Linked DNA regions of Homo sapiens: all the other regions are reported to be linked to region 2. The links are microRNA targets in miRTarBase. Many come from high-throughput screens and were not tested one by one. Region 2 holds a microRNA gene; each other region holds the end of a gene's coding sequence.
Evidence for each region. Region 2 holds the annotated microRNA hsa-miR-4277 (GCAGUUCUGAGCACAGUACAC, at 2,382-2,402, opposite strand). A microRNA usually pairs through its seed, bases 2 to 8, with sites in the 3' UTR of a target mRNA and lowers its output. Matches are read on the target gene's strand: a 7mer-m8 pairs with bases 2 to 8, a 7mer-A1 pairs with bases 2 to 7 and ends in A, and an 8mer does both.

Region 1 (4,381 bases), not on the chromosome of region 2:
AGGGTAGGGTTCCCAGACACAATGCAGGATGACCAGTTACATTTGAATTTCAGATAAACAACAAATTATTTTTTAGTATATGTCCCAACTATTTGCCTAGGACATATTTACACTTAATAATTGTTTGTTGTTGAACTGAAATTCAAATGTAACTGGACATCCTGTATTTTTATTTGCCAAATCTGGCAACCATAGCATGGGGCTCAGGGCCACCAGGATCTTGGGACTCCTCCCTGCCTGCCACCACCCAGGGCTCTGAGAAAGGGCCCCAAACAGCTTTAGGTGGGAGGGGCAGAGGAAAGGGAAGGGAAGGGGCAGAGCAGAGGATATGAGGGCAGTTCCTGGCTCAATCTCTTTCTACCTTTGAGTGGGAGGGGACACCCTCAGGGACAGTTTTTCTCTCTGTGAGGCTGGGTGAGACCCAGGACTCAGATGCCTTATGAATTAACCTAGGACATTAAGGGAACATGGAAGCTCTCACTCCCCAAACCCAGGGAGGTTCCTCAACCTCTTTGCTGTCACCCACCCTTACCCCCACCCCACTGCATGGAGGCAGGTTTATAAGAGAGCTGCTTTTACCCACAGGAGGGCTGTAGTGACCTCTCTTCTCCCTCTCGCTGAAGCCTTGGGCCAGCAAAATCATCCCACACTGATTCTGCAGACACAAGTTATGTATGCTTTCCTAGGAAGAAAAAAGATCAGGATCTGAGACTGTGGCCTAATCCCTGCTATCTCATCCTCTACTGAGGGACTCCAGGAAAGTCACTTCTCATTCATGCCAAGCACCTGCCTACTGTCTGAGATTGCCCCAGCATTCCTTACCCAGCCTTCCCCAGGCCTCAGCTTCCACTTCCAAAGCCCAAAAATCTGCCTGTAGCTCTGGCAGAGTTAGCATCCCTTCTGGAACAATTATTCAGGGAGGAAGAAGAAAACGAACTTTCAGACTTTACCCCAGTTTCTGGATGGGATTAGGCTTGTTTTCATGGTCTCAGCTTCTCTAAAAATCACCTCTATACTACTTTCCTTTCTCTGGAACAGACTTTGAGATGAAAACTCACAGCCCCAGAGGCGTCCAGAACCCCTTACTAGCCAGACACCCTAACTCTATCCTGCTTAGTGCCTACACCCCAGTACCCTGACATCCCCAGAAATAAACCTGCCCAGCAGTGAGTGTTTGGCATGATGCCCTGTGGTTTAAGCTACGTCAGCCCTCAGGTATGGAAAACACACAAGCAGAAGCATGTTCCCACCAAGCCCATGGACCAAGACAGATGCCATCCACTACGTGGCATATCAGGACCAGCTGGGACCTGAGGAAGGCACTGCTCCCCACACCCACACTGGCTCCACACTGGTGTCAACGTTCAAAATCACTCAGCAACCTGTCCCCACCCCTCAAGGCTCCTCACTAGCAGTGGGCTCAGAGTAATAAAAATCCAGCCCTGGTCACCAGGCACATAGACACCCAGACCACCAGAGGTTCCTACCATTGCCTTTCCTCCCTGTCAAGGGAATGCAAATCTTGGGCTTTGGAAGGGCTGAATGAAGTTCATGAATGGAAAAGAATCCAGGTGGTAGAAGATGAATTGGGAAAGGGCAAAGGAGTAAAGGTAGAGGGGATATTGACAAGGGGGTCTCCATGAGTGAGTCTGTGGGATATGGGTGAGAAGAGTGAGTCTGGGGAGAGACCCTGAGAAAGCACCAAAATCCCATAACTCTGGGGTTGGGAGAAGAGTCCAGTGACTTCTGATGTCCATACCAGGAAATCCCACTCTGTGGCCACCCAGATTCTGAAAACACCCTATTGTCCTACAACTCTCTACCATGACCACACCTTTGGTCCCAAGGACCGCAGTTCATAATCCTGATCAGAGTCTTACCTTCCCATCATTAAGTACACACACACACACACACACACACACCAGTAAAAACATAACTTCCCATGTACCACTAACAAGACAAAGAAGGATCTCCAAGAGACAGGCAGGCTTTCCAGTCTGTTTCTGGTGGGGGTATTCCCTCATTTCCCTCACTCCTTCATCCAAAAAACAAAGCAAAACCAAAAGCCCCTTCCCCCTTTTTAAAATAAAATAAAAAGACACTCTGCAACTTCTTCACACTGGATCCTCAAAGCCTGATTCCCTCCAACACTGTCCATCTGTCTTGGGTGTCTACAGGAAGCTGAAGTGGCCCAGATGGGGCAGGATAGAGATGCTGCCATTTGTGCTGGGAAAGAGAGATACTCAGGCTTCTGGAGAAGCCATGAGTTTTCTGTGGTGAAAAAATGGCAAGGGCCTGAGGGCTTCATGGATGGAAAAGAGAGGTCAAAGGAAGGCAGGCAAGGAGGGCTGGCCTCTGGCCACAAGGGGACCTCACTCTGTTGTCCAGGCTGAAGGATTGGAAGAAGACTCAGTGCAAACCTGACTAACATATATATGGCTTTTATATCAGTGCTGGGGACAAAAGGTGAACAGGGAATGGGATACAACTGAGCATGGGTAGAAACCCTAGAAGGTCACCTCTGCTACTCATTTGGAATGGATGCCCTTTGTTTCTTAGCATTCATAGAGAGAAGCCCCCTAATGGTAGGACGGGTCCTTCCCATAGGTCTCCCTGGGCCACTCCAGCTACCTATCAGCTCTCCAGCATGGAGGGCAGAGGGCCAAGGGAGCAAGGAGTGGGAGTCGGGGGAATTCCAGTGCTCCCCTATATCTCCTCCCAAGGGATCTCAGCCATCTGTCCCCCATCCTCTTCTTACCACCCCCTTCTTACCTGGACCTCAGGAGAACTAAGAACATTTAAACTTTCCTTTTAAAGTTCTCTGGCTCTGCACAGATAACGTGTCTTCAGACAGTGTTGCTCCACTTAAAAGAGAAACAGAAGCAAAAGCACAATGGGGAATAAATGCAAATGAACTTGGCTGCTTATATTCTGGAAAGGGAGAAAGCATCTGTGTTTCCCACTGGATGGGGTGAAGATCCAGGAGTTTAATTTTGGTCTTTCTGGTAATGGGACTTCTGTTTCTTCATAGTTTGATATTTATTGTCAATAAGAGTGAGATTTTGGGACTGAGAGTCCCTGTTAGTCTGACCCAACTAGTGAATAGCTCATATCCATGAATGTCCCAGGAACTACACTTCTGGGGAAACCATGACTGGCAGGAGGAAGTATTTGATGGCATCGTTTGGTCCTAGTTCTGAACACATCCAGTCTTCACATCTTGCTGCCTCCCAAATAGCCACCAACAGGAGTATGAAAGCCCCGATATCTGAACAGGATCCTGAGACTTTGCCATAGATGAGAGAAGATCTCCCACTTAGTGGACTTCTTCATGTCAGGGTCCCCAAAGAGCCTTCTTTTCCCACACAACTTTACTGTCCATGGCTCATTCCAGGAATGAAGAGAGATGCTCAAAGAGACACACACACACACACATTCCAGGAATGAAGAGAAATGCTCAAAGACACACACACACACACACACACACACACACACACACACATACACACACACACACACACACACACACACGATCATTGGCCACTGTGATGCCTTCCCTGTCAGGAAGCAGGATGTGCTGCCATTTTGTTGGTCCAGAAGGCTCAAAAAACAGGAACTGCTGCAAGTTTGTGCCAGTAGAGAGCCTCGCTTGGGGTGAGGCAGATGTGAAGCTTTGAAAGAGTCGAGGGAACTGTGACAGGGCATGCAGCAAGGACAGCTCCTGGGACCGTGAACAGAGCCAGGCTTCTCTTTCACCTCTTAGGGGACTCTCCTCACACAGCCATCAAAGGGAAGTTGGTCTTTAAAAAGAGAAAAACAAGGAAAAACAAGGACACAACCACCCAACAAATGAAAGAAAAAAGAAAACCTCTAAGGTTGCATAACTGAGGTATTGATAGCTCTGGATCTTGTCAGTGTCCGTGAAAGGTGTGGGGTCCCAGCCGCTGCTGTCTACTTGTTCTTGCCCAGGAGTGCATCCACCTCCTCCTCAGGCTTGAGCGAGTGCCACTGGGCGATGGGCCTCCGGGGGTTGGCCAGCATGTCGGACCAGTGCCGCAGCTCTGTGCCCGTGGCATTGCTGCCCACGAAGATCTTGCCTATGGCTTCGTTCTTGCCCAGCTTGTCATAGTCCAGCACGGTGACCACTACCTGGACTTTCTGCAAGGAAAACGAGGGAGGGAGTTGGCAGACAGAGACGTGGGATCCCATGACCAAATTTATCCTCCATCAACCTCTACTCCCAATGATTGGGAAGGTAAGGCCTCCTGGGGCTCCTTGGTTTCATCTCTGCTCCAGTGAAGACTGAATTGACATGGAGGCAGAGGCCACGCCTTTGGCAGCCTTTGTTTCTACCACTGGGCATTTATTGAGGATGTACTGT
Region 2 (4,381 bases):
ATACCTGCCTTGTCCCATGAACAGTTTCAGTAGGTGTTTTACGTATTCCCGATTGATTTAAACGACGCACAGTCGTTCCCCTTTGCAGTCTTGCAGTGTGTAACACAGGCTAACCCTGTTCATAATCTTAGCCTGTAATGCTGACTACAAATTGCCATTGCTTAGTCATTGTTAGCAGAACTCATGATGTGGAGAAGGAGCGGGAATCCCTTTCGATGGTGACGGACTGTTTCTCTGATGCTGACGATCTCTCCCCTGATACCGCCAAGAAATTGTCTACAGAGATCACTCAATCTCTCCTCGAAACTGTGGGTTTGCAAAATCACACATTGATTCACTTTAATAATTTCATAAGTGCAGAGTTGAGCACTAGGCTGTGGAAGACCCTCTGGGGAGTTATGGAATGCAGGTCTTGGACACTGGTTTCTGCCACCGTGCCTTGTGGAACAAGGGACCCCAGAGAGAGCCACAGGGCACTGGCCCTCAATGGGCCCACGTGTGCAAGAGGGAGACAGCCCCAACTGGGGTTAGCCACGTGCTCTGAGAGGCCTGGGGCATAGCCCTCTGTACTTCAGCATCAGTGAGAGATGAAGCCACAGGAGACCTTTTCTGCAGAGGGAGGGGCTGTGTGAGCTCAGAGGTCCAGGCAGTGCCTCCCTCCCACCCTGACTGCCTGCGCCAGCTCCCACCTGGACTGAAGGTGCTGCTTTTCTGCAGGTTCGCTGGTTAAGGACTGAGGAGGCAGCTGCACATCCTCTCCTCTGTCCGTGGTGTCATAGCAAATGGCTCTTCCTTTTTCTCACCGTGCAGTTGGTCTTGAGGTGAAGCTCAGAGCACAGGACACATTGTTTGAAACTGGTGAAGCCGTGTGTTGTACCAGGCAGCGAGAGAAGACATGTGGCCTTATTTCCCATGCGATGAGTTTTCAGAGTGATGTGAAGACGTGCCCTCTTACTGAGCACCACCTCTCAAATGGCCAAGGGCTCCCACGTGGTCCACTTGCAATGTGGGAGGTCATCCTAGCAGACGGCAAGGGAGGGGAGCTGGCTGCAAAGGTGGACAGTCAGGCTGGAAGGCCTGAGACCCGCAAGAGACCGCTCTGCTACGGGACAGGGGGCTGGTGTTTCTGGAGACAGTGTACTAACTCCGAGGGCCCAGGGAGGGCCGTGCTCCTGGGAGCCAGCCTCTGCAACCTGGCTTTCTGGGTGCCGTGGGACGGCGGGGCTGAGCCTGGCCTCTCCACACATGTGGCCAGCTGCCACTCCCCAGGGGTACAGGTGATGTGCAGTCTGCACACAGGGGCCCAGGGGCCTGTTGCCTTCCTGGACACCCCTGCTCCCATCTTGGGGCTGGTCAGCTCAGCCCAGAGCGCCTAGTACCTTCTGAAGTTATTTTCTCCTCTTTACCAGGAAGAAATGTTTGTAGTAAAAGAAACGGTGGCACATAATTTTGGAAAACAAAGGTATTTTGAGGGCTAATGCTTGTAGCTGGGTTTCCCAGATGCAAAGTTTGCACATTTTATTGTCATCCTTCCATGTTTTGTGCATACATGATCGAGAAGTGTGTGTGTGTGTGTGTGAGTGTGCATGTGTGGGATGCCAATGTGTACATGGTACAACTGTGTGTGCACAGGTGTGTGTTTTTGCCCTGAGTGTGTGCGGTGTGTGTGTTATGTGTATGTTATGTGTTGTGTTGTGGAATGCCCATGTGTGTTATGTGGTGTGTGTGCCTTGTGTGCAGGTGGCATGTCTGTGTGTGTTACATGCCTGTGTTGTGTGCCCATATCTATGTGATTGGTCACTGTTGTGTGTGTTGTGTGTGTCTGCACTGGGTACTCGCTATGTGTGTCGAGTTTATGTGCATGGTGCATCTCTCTGTGGAGCTTTGTGGGAATGAAGAATCAGGTTAATCTCCCAGCTCTCAATCAGAAAAGGACAACCAAAATTTGCAGTCGCACACAGAAGATGAATTTGTTAATGCCTGGCTGGACTTTCCACTCAGGTCTTAACCACCTGGAATGCTGAGGTGCAGCATATGTGATTGATGAAACAGGGACGAGGGTGGTTTCTGCTGAGCACTTCAGGCATGAAATCCAAACTCAGCAAAAGAGCCCCCTTTGCCAGCCCCCTGCTGCTGTCCCAACCCAATTGCTTGTCCCGCTCTCCTTGGAAGATGGCAGCCACACTTGAGTGGGATATCAGAGTGGCTGCTTTTCATCAGGAAGAGGCAGAGACAGGCTGAGTCAAGTGGAACCACTGCTGTCCCCCACTGTCAGGCGGCCCCTGCCCCCACTTGGAGCCCGCCCAGGGGCAGCTTTGTCTAGACATGGAGGGGCACAAGGACTTGAGCTGAGCAGGGCACTGGGCAGTGGGGGCAGCCCAGTGTACTGTGCTCAGAACTGCCTCGACCCAGAGCCAGACAAGTGACCGGGCAGTCACAGCCCCATCTCCTCCCTGCTAAGCACTGGCAGGACCCGCAGGGGAGGAGGAGGGAAGGCACTTCCTGCTGCCTGGACATTCCCCACTCTCAGGAGCAGCACAGACCTGGCCACTCCCATGAACAGAAAGTACCCCTGCAGTGTTGCCCTCCCACACCGTAGGCCACACACCTGGACATTCCACAACATATAACATACACATAACACACACACACACTGCACACACTCAGAGCAAAAACACACACCTATGCACCCACAGTGGTACCACATACACACTGGCATCCCACGGTGTCCCATCTGGCCACAATTGTCTCTCCCCTGTTAATGGCTCTCAGGACACTGCACATAGGGTAGCAAAGGGCAGTGACCCATGACAGATGACATGCAAGTGAGCTGAGCCCTGACGCTCTCCAGCTTCCTGCCTGAAGAGAATCTCTGAGCCATGACACAGGCAGAGGAGCCCAGGCACGGCCCACAGCCTGGCTGAACGCAGGAGACAGAGCCGAGAGTCTGTGGAGGTGAGAGAAAGTGACCTTTGCCCTACAGAGTCTTGCAGAAAAGAGACAGGCGTGGGGCACGAGCTCCTGGGATCCACAACAGGTCTGGGTGGAGCAGGCCACAGAGTGCTGCTCGGTGCACGAGAGAAAGACTCACGAAACGGGAAGGAGGCTCTGGGAAGGAGTAGAGGTCAATGCCCAGCACTCACACTGGGCCGGCCGCCTCTCCTGCCAGGCAAAGTTGAATACGCATTGGGTAGAGCACACAGGAGAGTGTTGCCTCGGTACTGGAGAATAATTCATCCTTAATTGCTCACCTCTCAGGTTCTGCCTAACAAAGCTTAAAAGCAAGATCCAAAAGGCTCAATCTTGTTTCAAAGAAACTCAACGTTGTCCTTGGACAACCCTCAAGAATATGTATAGAATCAGAGGAGCCAAGATGGCCCAATAGGAACAGCTCCGGTCTACAGCTCCCAGCGTGAGCGATGCAGAAGACGGGTGATTTCTGCATTTCCATCTGAGGTACCGGGTTCATCTCACTAGGGAGTGCCAGACAGTGGGCGCAGGTCAGTGTGTGTGCGCACCGTGCGCGAGCCGAAGCAGGGCGAGGCATTGCCTCACTCGGGAAGCGCAAGGGGTCAGGGAGTTCCCTTTCCCAGTCAAAGAAATGGGTTACAGACGGCACCTGGAAAATCGGGTCACTCCCACCCGAATACTGCGCTTTTCCGACGGGCTTAAAAAACGGCGCACCACGAGACTATCTCCCGCACCTCGCTCGGAGGGTCCTACGCCCACGGAGTCTCGCTGATTGCTAGCACAGCAGTCTGAGATCAAACTGCAAGGCGGCAGCGAGGCTGGGGGAGGGGCGCCCGCCATTGCCCGGGCTTGATTAGGTAAACTAAGCAGCCAGGAAGCTCCAACTGGGTGGAGCCCACCACAGCTCAAGGAGGCCTGCCTGCCTCCGTAGGCTCCACCTCTTGGGGCAGGGCACAGACAAACAAAAAGACAGCAGTAACCTCTGCAGACTTAAATGTCCCTGTCTGACAGCTTTGAAGAGAGCAGTGGTTCTCCCAGCACGCAGCTGGAGATCTGAGAACGGGCAGACTGCCTCCTCAAGTGGGTCCCTGACCCCTGACCCTGGAGCAGCCTAACTGGGAGGCACCCCCCAGCAGGGGCACACTGACACCTCACACGGCAGGGTATTCCAACAGACCTGCAGCTGAGGGTCCTGTCTGTTAGAAGGAAAACTAACAAACATAAAGGACATCCACACCGAAAACCCATCTGTACACCACCATCATCAAAGACCAAAAGTAGATAAAACGACAAAGATGGGGAAAAAACAGAACAGAAAAACTGGAAACTCTAAAAAGCAGAGCGCCTCTCCTCCTCCAAAGGAATGCAGTTCCTCACCAGCAACGGAACAAAGCTGGATGGAGAATGACTT
Region 3 (4,319 bases), not on the chromosome of region 2:
GATCACCAAATGTGGGTGCCTGTTATCTCCAATACCTAATTTGTTACATATCTGTGATTCATAGGTACTGGAAGATGCTCACAGAGATGCCAACCTGCACCATGTAGCTTGTAATATAGTGAAAAAACCTGGCAACATTTACTATCTCTATAAACGGGAGAGTGGTCAGCAGTATTTTTCCATCATTTCTCCAAAGGTAAGAACATACATTGTTTGCCCAAAAATCTACTCCAGCCTCTGAGAAATTCTTGGTATATGTGTGAAAATGTAGACATGTGGATTGGTATATGGTTTCTTAGAAAATTGGGGGTGATGTGAGCCCAGACATGACTCTAAAAAATATACCTGTGCTTAAATTATTTCACTCATTTTCTTCATTAAGGGAGGGATCTGATGTGTAAGGTAACTGCGTTCCAAAGGTTGTTCTGACTAGTATGAAGTGAAAAGCCAAAAAAGAGATTGTGGCATGATTAGGAAATGAGCTCAGTTTGTTTACAACCCACGCTGATGGGAACTGCCTCCTTTGCCTTCTCTAGGAATGGGGGACAAGTTGTCCACATGACTTCCTTGGTGCCTACAAACTACAGCATGACTTGTCCTGGACTCCGTATGAGGACATTGAGAAGCAAGATGCTAAAATCAGCATGATGGACACGTTGCTAAGCCAGTCAGTGGCCCTGCCTCCGTGCACTGAACCCAACTTCCAGGGACTGACTCACTGAGAGTGGGCTTTGACAAACAGCTCTCACAGGACCTGGCTGTCAACCTCCTTGTTGCCCCCACTGTTGCCTTGAGAATTGAAGACATGTAGGTGACTCACAAACTTCTTGGAAAGAGACCCTGTGTGAATGTAAATGCTGTCATTATGACTTTTAATTGGGATGGGAATAATCATTGAGACAGAGTCACTGTCTTTCGGGATCCTCTTTGGACCACAGATACCCAAGTCAGTCAGTTTCAGAGTATTGGCCAGTGTACTTTCCTTCTTCCTCTCCATCACTTCTTCCCTTAAGTTAAAGTGTTAGAGAAGACCTTCTTCCCATAAAAAGGTTGGTGGATCGTTTTCCAGAGAGAACTGTTTTCAGTCTTTTATATATATATATATATATATATAACTGGTAGTATTTAACATTGGGGTTGAGGCTGTCTCACAGTTGGTGCAACTCCAGTTTAAAATTCATCTGGGAACGAGAATGTTGAGTAATGGAGGGTGATTTAAAAAACAACAACAACAACAAAAAAAAAAACACTTGGCTTGGCTGGACCAGAGAGTGTGTGATTCTGGGATTTCTGTGCTGTTGATGAGGTTTGTCTTGCCCCTTTTGCTCTCTCTGCCTTGCTAGAGTGACAGAATCTGAGGCAGCAAAGGCCAGGTTTGGGGAGAGTCAACTTTGAAACTCACAAATTTTAGACTTGGAAGAGACATTGGATGCTGCCACTAATCATTATAGAGTCCACTGTGTAGTCTCCCAAGTTGGAAATCCCAGGCTCAGCCACCTGCAGCAGAACAAACCCATTTAAATGGCTACTTAACACTGTGGAAGAGAGTAAGGCAGTAGAGTGAGAAGCAAGAAAAACAGCCAAATTGTTGACTGTGAGTTAACTCAGATTGAAATCCATTTTGACCAGAATTATTCAAGAACTTAACAGGGTTTTGGCAAAATTACTGTAGTTCTTATTCTGACTAGGCTCTTGTAGGACTCTACCTTCTTTCCTATCTGTTTGGTGGAATTAGCTAAGTTTATGGATTATTTCGCATGGCTATAATCTATTGCAATATGCTGTAAAAGGAGGGAGAGATGTGTACTTGAACTGACAATTGGCCAAATTTCTCTCTGGGAATGATGTTCCTGATGCTGATCTGTTTGGTAATACCCTCCCCGGGCCGCCCCCCGATTCATGGTCTTTCCTCATAAACTGCATTTCTTGTGAGCTGTAAGAGGTCTACCTAAGGCCTAGCACAGGATGGGGCTAGAATCTAACAAACTCACTCCGATGATACTTGGTTGCTCGGTTCACATGGGAATGCTCTTTGGACTCAGCTGCAGAGGTCTTTTGCTCAGGTGCTGCAGAGCCGGATGGAAGAGACATTAGTGGTAGAGTAGTGGATTCTGACTACAGAAAGTTTCCCAGGTTTTCAGAAGGTTCTGACCTGCATGATGATGACACATTTTGAATAGGTGCTTTATTAGTTACAGATAAACAAATTACTGCAAACTTAATGGTTTAAAGCAACACCTATTTATTTCAGAGCTTACAGGTTAGGAGTTCAGGCACCATTTCATTGAGTCCTCTGCTTCACAGTTTCTCTGAAACCCTGGAAGGCTGAAATCAAGTTATTGGTCAGGGCTGTTCTTATCTGAAGGCCTGAGTGGGGAAGGATCTGCTTCCAAGCTCACTTAAATTGTTAGCAGAATTTCTTTTCTTTCCTTTCTTTTTTTTTGAGACAGAGTCTCGCTGTATTGCCAGGCCTGAGTACAGTGGCTCAATCTCAGCTTACCGCAACCTCCGCCTCCTGGTTCAAGTGATTCTCCTGCCTCAGCCTCCTCAGTAGCTGAGATTACAGGCGCACGCCACCATGCCCAGCTAATTTTTTTATTTTTAGTAGAGACAGGGTTTCACCATGTTGGCCAGGAGGGTCTCTATCTCTTGACCTCATGATCCACCTGCCTCAGCCTCCCACAGTGCTGGCGTTTGAGCCACCATACCTGGCCTGTTGGCAGAATTTCAATTCCACAAGGGTTGCTGGCTTCCGGGGTTCCACTAGCTGACTGTTGGCTGGAGGTTGCCCTCACTTCCTTGCCACACGAGCCTCTATAACATGGCAGCTTTCTTAAGCAAAGTAAACAAGGATTAGAGTCTGCTAGCCAGATGGAAGTTACAGTCTCATGTAGTCTGATCACAGAAGTGACATTTCATCACCTTTGCCGTAATCTTTTGGTTGGAAGCAAGTCACTAGGCTAGCCCATATTCAAGGGAGGGAGTTATACAAAGGCATGTATACCAGAAGGCAGACATCATTGAATCATTGAACAGATCCTAGAATCTATCTGCCACAGTGCTCAGTTGAGAAGAAGAAAGGAAAATTCTAGGTAAAAAAGGCAATATTACTAAGTGGTTAAGTGTGATGATGTCAAAGTCACAGATCTGCACTTGACTGTCAACTCTGACAAGACAGCCTCCCAGCTGGCATCCCTGCTTCCCCCTCTGTCCCCTCTCCAATCCATTCTGCATGCAGTCATCAGCTTGATCATTTGAAAATGCCAAATCTCCCTCACTCTTGACATTTCCTAACCTAAAGAGTGGGAGAGTAGTGATTGAAAAGAGAGAAACTGCCTTCTGTTCAGTAAGATGTACTCCCTGCACTGACCACCAAGGGGTGTCATTGCTCTTTCCTGGTTAAGCCAGTTACCACACTTGGGAAGGGCTAGTGGCAATGTGAGGTGATTTGGGGCACCTCAGAATGGGAAACTAGGACCCAGTGATTATATACAGTAATCACTTTTCATTTACCCATCCATCTGTTCACCTGATAATTTCATTAGTGTTAAGTGCCTTCTAGGTTCCAGGTTCTGGTGAATAATGGAGCTGAATAAGAAATCACAATTTCCAGGGAGCTCACAGTATAGTAGGGAAGGAAACAAGTTAACAATTACAAGATGCTCTAAGAAGGGGTGTGATAGAGGTACGCATGGAATACTATGGAGCTCCGGGGAGGGGTTCCTTACTGAGCTTGGAGAATTTGGGAAGACACTTGGAGGAGCTGATGCCTGCTTGGTGTTGAAAACCATACAAGTTAGAACTTTCTGGAGGCTCCAATTGCCCTTTCATAGGAAGTTTGTCTTTTGGGGGTTGGGGTAGGGTTCATTTTTGGATGGAGTTTATTTGTGAATGAAGAAAGTGACAACCATTTAAGCCATATCAACCAAAGCAGTCCTGGCAATGAGGAGGGGTGGAGTGAGATATGTCCTGGCTAGAAAATCCTTGTGTTTAAAAGCTAGGAGATAGTTGAAGACAGGGAGGAAAAAACATTCCAGACAAAAAATAACATGGAAGGGACATTGACCAGAATTGACACGACATTTGGGGAATCGCAGCCAGTTAAACAGGAGAATATGGACTGGGGAATATGAGAGAAGAACTAATGGAAGGATTTGGGGAGGCTGGTAATATTGGCAGCAGAGTTTGGGTAGAGGGAAGACAGGAGATTCCATCCCTAATCAAGGCAAGGGATGATGGGAGTCTGAATTAAGCAGTAGTAGAATGAGAGGGCCTGTATTTCACCAATTACAAGGTGTACTTCCCCCCCCCCCCCCCCC
Region 4 (4,315 bases), not on the chromosome of region 2:
TGCCAGCTCCCTCAGCCGCCACCTCTTCATTGTCCACAAGGTGAGAGACCAGGAGGAGGAGGAGGAAGAGGAGGCGGCGGCAGCGGAGATGGCAGTGGAGGTGGCAGAGCCAGAGGAGGGCTCCGGGGAGGAGGTGCCCATGGAGACTAGAGAGAATGGACTGGAAGAATGTGCCGGTGAGCCTTTGTCAGCTGACCCAGAGGCGAGGAGATTGCTGGGCCCGGCCCCTGAGGACGATGGTGGCCACAATGATCACAGTCAACCACAGGCCTCTCAGGACCAGGACAGCCACACACTGTCCCCTCAGGTGTGACCGGAGACTTTGCAGTGTGCATGGTCAGGGGTGGTGCCGAAGTGTCTTCCACCTGCCCTGCGGACCGTGGAAAATAAAAGGCTCTGCCCCCAGTGTGAGTGTGACCGGTTGTACCCTGGAGTAGTGTCTGCCCTGAGCTGCCAGTGCTGGGTATCCCCCAGCCCCAGGAAATGTGGGGTCGGCCAGGACCCTCACAGCTCTGAATTTGCTTCTGTTATTTATGGCTTTTCGCTGCTTCTTGGTGCCCCATCTCTTGTCTGTGTCCTTCCAACCCCAAGCTGCTTATGTGGCCCAACCCCACTGCTGTCAACTAGGCTTGAACCCCACAGCGGCTGTGCTCTTCTGGGAGGTTCCCGCTTGCTGCCTTCAGCCAGGGCGCTCCTCAGAGCTCTATTTTCCTGCAGACACCAGCTCTCCTTCCTGCCTTTAGATCCTGAGAAGGAGGGAAATGAGGGGTGCTGACACAGTCCCTCTGGGAGAGCTCTGCCTAGTCTGGTTTGGCGAGGGCCCTTGATCACCTTGCCCCTCCTCCCTGTCTTCTCTGATTCTTTTCCCTCAAAATAGTCCTGAGAACTAATTGTCACACTGGCTCATCATGTCTCTGTGGGTGGGGTGGGAGAAACCTCTGCTGCACACCTCTGTTTGGAACCTGGGCAGAGCAGGAGGTAAGGCAAAGGCAGGCAGGCACCAAGAACCAGACCCCTTGAGAAGGCGCTGTGGGTGGGTCTTTGTTCTGCTGTTCTGCCTTTCCTGACAGGTGGGGTTGGGGCACACAGACATTGGAATATTTGTACTGCTCTCGTGCCATTTGAGAGGCTGCTGCCCCAGGCAGGCCAGCCCCTACTCCTCTTGGCTACACTCATGTTGCTCAGACTATATTTCAAATAAAAAATCTTCTCACCATGCAGGTAGGCTCTTGTATTCCTCTCCAAGTGAGCCTGGCCCCACCCTATTCCACCCAAGGGTCTTTCCCAGACTTCCCCTGTTTGTCCCATCTCTGAGGGAGAACAATACTTCCTACTGTCTAAGGAAGGCCTTCTCTAGATTCTGGAGCTTGTGGTTAGGAAACCGGGAGCCCTGTACTACTTAGTTCTCTAGAGACCTTCTGAAGGGGTGAGGGGAGCGGCTCCACAATGGTCAAGTCACCTCCAAGATCTCCAGGCTAGTGACATTGGCTTTAGGGCGTATCGAAATTTTCTAGGCACCTTCATCTTTCCTTCAGTTGATTTTCAACATAAGAGAACCCCTTACTGGTAAAAAGGGAAAAGGGGGTGGAGAAGAGGAATTTTATAATTTTCTTATAGCATTCAAGAGGTTTCTTATTTCTTACAGCATCGCTACTGCCACAGAGAACTCAAATGTGGCAGAACTGGGATTAGACTTGGGAGACTGGCTGTCTTTTCACTGATGGTGGAGTCAGGGCCCACCCAAGCACGAGGAGCAGGCTGTGTGGAGGTGTCGTCTGACCTCTAACCCAGGTGGCATGGGGTTGCGCCCAGCAGGATGTAGTGGAGTAAAGGGAAGAGGGTGCTGGCCGGGTGCTTAGAGGTCATCTTTCAAGGAGGCATTAAATATCAATTATAAATTATTAAGTCAGATAAATATGCCTGACCTTTTCACAGTTGAAAAAATACATTTTTTCCCCTCTATCAAATGCCAAGTTTTTAGTGGAAATGCTAATGGCAGTGGGAAAGGTTGCCTCACTTTCAGAGAGACTCTCGCTGTCTGCACCCTTTTAATAATTGCTCTTCCTGGCAAGGCTGCCACTTCCCTGCCTCCCCAGCTGGCAGTGGGGCAACCCAGGCCTGTTTCCAGCTACCTGCAAAGCCAGACCTAGACCTGCCGTAGCTGTTGTCCCATGCCTAATTCTAGTTACAGGAAGCCATCCCTGTACCCTGGGTCCATTCACAGGAATGGGTTCCAGAGGAGGCTGATAGAAGGGTTTGAAATGACTGGCTGGATCCCTTCCTGCTCAGACACAGTGGTAGCTGGAGAGCAGGCAGAGATGGTAGAATTGCAGGTTTGACCACCTGTCGTGACCCCAGATATACATCTCCTTCCTGGGAAGAACGTGAGTTGGAAAAATGCTGAGCCAGTCCCTGGAAAACCTGGGTCCTGGCCTGGATTCTGTCCTTAGCCAGCTCTTAACAAATCCCTTAACCTCACTGTCTCCTCTCCTTCACAATAGAGTTAGTAATTCCCATCCAACTGGCTTCACAGGCTTTTGTGAGCTTATGAATGTGAAAGTATTTTCTAGTTTATAAAACACTATATGAATGTGGGGAAATCTTTACTTGACCTTAGGGCATGGAGGGTGGAGCACATTTTGTCTGCTGTTTGGACTTGGATGCTGATTAGCAGTTATGAAGTGGCCCAGACACCTAGCCATTCTTTAGTAAGAGTGAAGATAGCATTTTAAGCCCTCCTTGTGTGCCTAGCATCTTACTGAACACTTTCTGGTGATTCTCTCCTTTAATCCTCACAAAGATCTCACAGTTGTCCTCCATTTTACGGAGAAGAAACCGAGGCTCCGAGAGGTTAAACGATGTGCAGAGGCTACCTGTAGTGATGGTGCTGAGTCAAGCCTGTCAACCACTGTGCTCGTTAGTGACCAAGGCTGCTTTGACAGGCTGCCAGCTTGTCAGTGGTTTGCAGCCCCCCAGACATTTGCTTTCCTACTTCCCATGCAGTTGGGGTGCCCTGCCAAGTGCCAGGTTCTCTTTGGAGTCCATCTGTGCCTTGTCACCCCAAGGAGGGCCTCGAGCATCACACCGTTGACATTTCGAAACGTGGTATCTCTACAACCTTTCATTCTCATTGGGATTTACCTTGCCATTTGAACACCATCATTTTTTGAGGACTGTCTAGAAAAGGTTGCCTAACCCTCACAGGGAACACACAGTTCCCTCAGAGTCCAGCATCTTCTGGTCTTTTCTTTTTCAAGATTTTTTTAAATGGTTGTGCTATCATTTGTCATCATCAGAAAATGCTTGCTGTAACAAGCGTTTATCTGCACATTATGCTGCAGTGAATGCTCTACTGATCAAGTTAAACAGATAAGATCCCTTCCCTTGTAGAAACTACAACTTAATACAGTCTAAGACTTGACAAATTACTTAGTATTTATTTTCCAACTGCTTTATCTCTGTAAAATGATATGCTGAATTATTATAAGCTAATTGTTGTAGAAAGAACTTTCCCCTTAACTTATGTAAACAGTCTGGTTTTAAAAAATTTGATAATTGTGGCCCAGTAAGCTCAACACTTTGCCTTCCCCAAGACTGGGGAACCTCTGTCCTGTTCACCACTGTATATTCAGCACCAGGCAGTTTCTTTTTTTGTTTGTTTGTTTTTTTGTTTTGAAAAATTAATACATATACATGGTAAGACATTCCACAATACAAAAGGGTATACAATAAATGGTAAGCTTCCCCATGGAGGTCAGCCTCTAGTCCCCTCTCCAGAGTTAATCACTGTTATCTATATGTTGTGTATCCTTTCATAGCAATTCTATGCATTTACAAGTTTATAAATATGTATATTTATATATCTATTTTTAATACAAATAGTAGAATTCTATACACAGTGTTCTGAAGCTTGCTTTCTTATATAGTATTTTGGAGATTATTCCAAATTCATACATTGGGTCAGAGTAATTCTTTAAAAGTTCCTTGCATATAACAGTGATTCAAAAAGTATATGGATGAATGAGTGAATGCTGCATGAATGAATGAATCTGATTCAATTGGTAGCTACAGCTGTTCTCTCAGGGTCTGATCTGACCAAGACAGCACCTTCTAGATTCTAGAATGTGTCCTCCTGACTAAGGGGTTCAGGATACTGTTCACCTTCTCCAACAGATGCCACCGGAGCCTTAGGAACTGGGCACAGGAAGCCTTGGGCCCCTGGAGGAAAAAGTTGAGACTAGGACGCAGGTCCCAAGTATGGGATTTTTTTGGGTTCCTACTTAAAATGCTTTTTTCTTTATTGGAAAATGATGTA

Region 1: the mRNA of SYT2 is a reported target of hsa-miR-4277. The part of its 3' UTR that is shown has no 7-base or 8-base seed match.
Region 3: miRTarBase lists C1orf50 as a target of hsa-miR-4277. Seed matches in the 3' UTR shown: 7mer-m8 at 1,072-1,078 and 7mer-A1 at 1,810-1,816.
Region 4: miRTarBase lists ZNF592 as a target of hsa-miR-4277. Seed matches in the 3' UTR shown: 7mer-m8 at 1,679-1,685.

The regions. Positions count from the first base shown.
Region 1 is chr1:202,592,806-202,597,186 of GRCh38, forward strand. It overlaps SYT2 (synaptotagmin 2), which reads right to left. Exons shown (of 9, transcript NM_177402.5): 9 at 1-4,158. The coding sequence ends at 3,952. Among named protein-coding and RNA genes, the nearest start is that of SYT2, 120 kb to the right of the region's middle.
Region 2 is chr5:1,706,457-1,710,837 of GRCh38, forward strand. MIR4277 (microRNA 4277) reads right to left here and starts at 2,412; the gene lies at 2,329-2,412. All of the region lies in intron 3 of LOC105374614 (a long non-coding RNA gene), which reads right to left. RefSeq lists enhancers at 678-1,179, 1,180-1,679, 2,400-2,963, 2,964-3,528, 3,529-4,092 and a silencer at 2,281-2,436.
Region 3 is chr1:42,774,673-42,778,991 of GRCh38, forward strand. It overlaps C1orf50 (chromosome 1 open reading frame 50), which reads left to right. Exons shown (of 5, transcript NM_024097.4): 4 at 65-196; 5 at 537-4,319. The coding sequence ends at 722. It overlaps TMEM269-DT (TMEM269 divergent transcript), which reads right to left. Exons shown (of 4, transcript NR_133055.2): 3 at 1,992-2,152; 4 at 1,141-1,497. Among named protein-coding and RNA genes, the nearest start is that of TMEM269-DT, 8.1 kb to the right of the region's middle.
Region 4 is chr15:84,802,081-84,806,395 of GRCh38, forward strand. It overlaps ZNF592 (zinc finger protein 592), which reads left to right. Exons shown (of 11, transcript NM_014630.3): 11 at 1-4,315. The coding sequence ends at 313. Among named protein-coding and RNA genes, the nearest start is that of ALPK3, 13 kb to the right of the region's middle. RefSeq lists enhancers at 1,562-2,063, 2,064-2,563.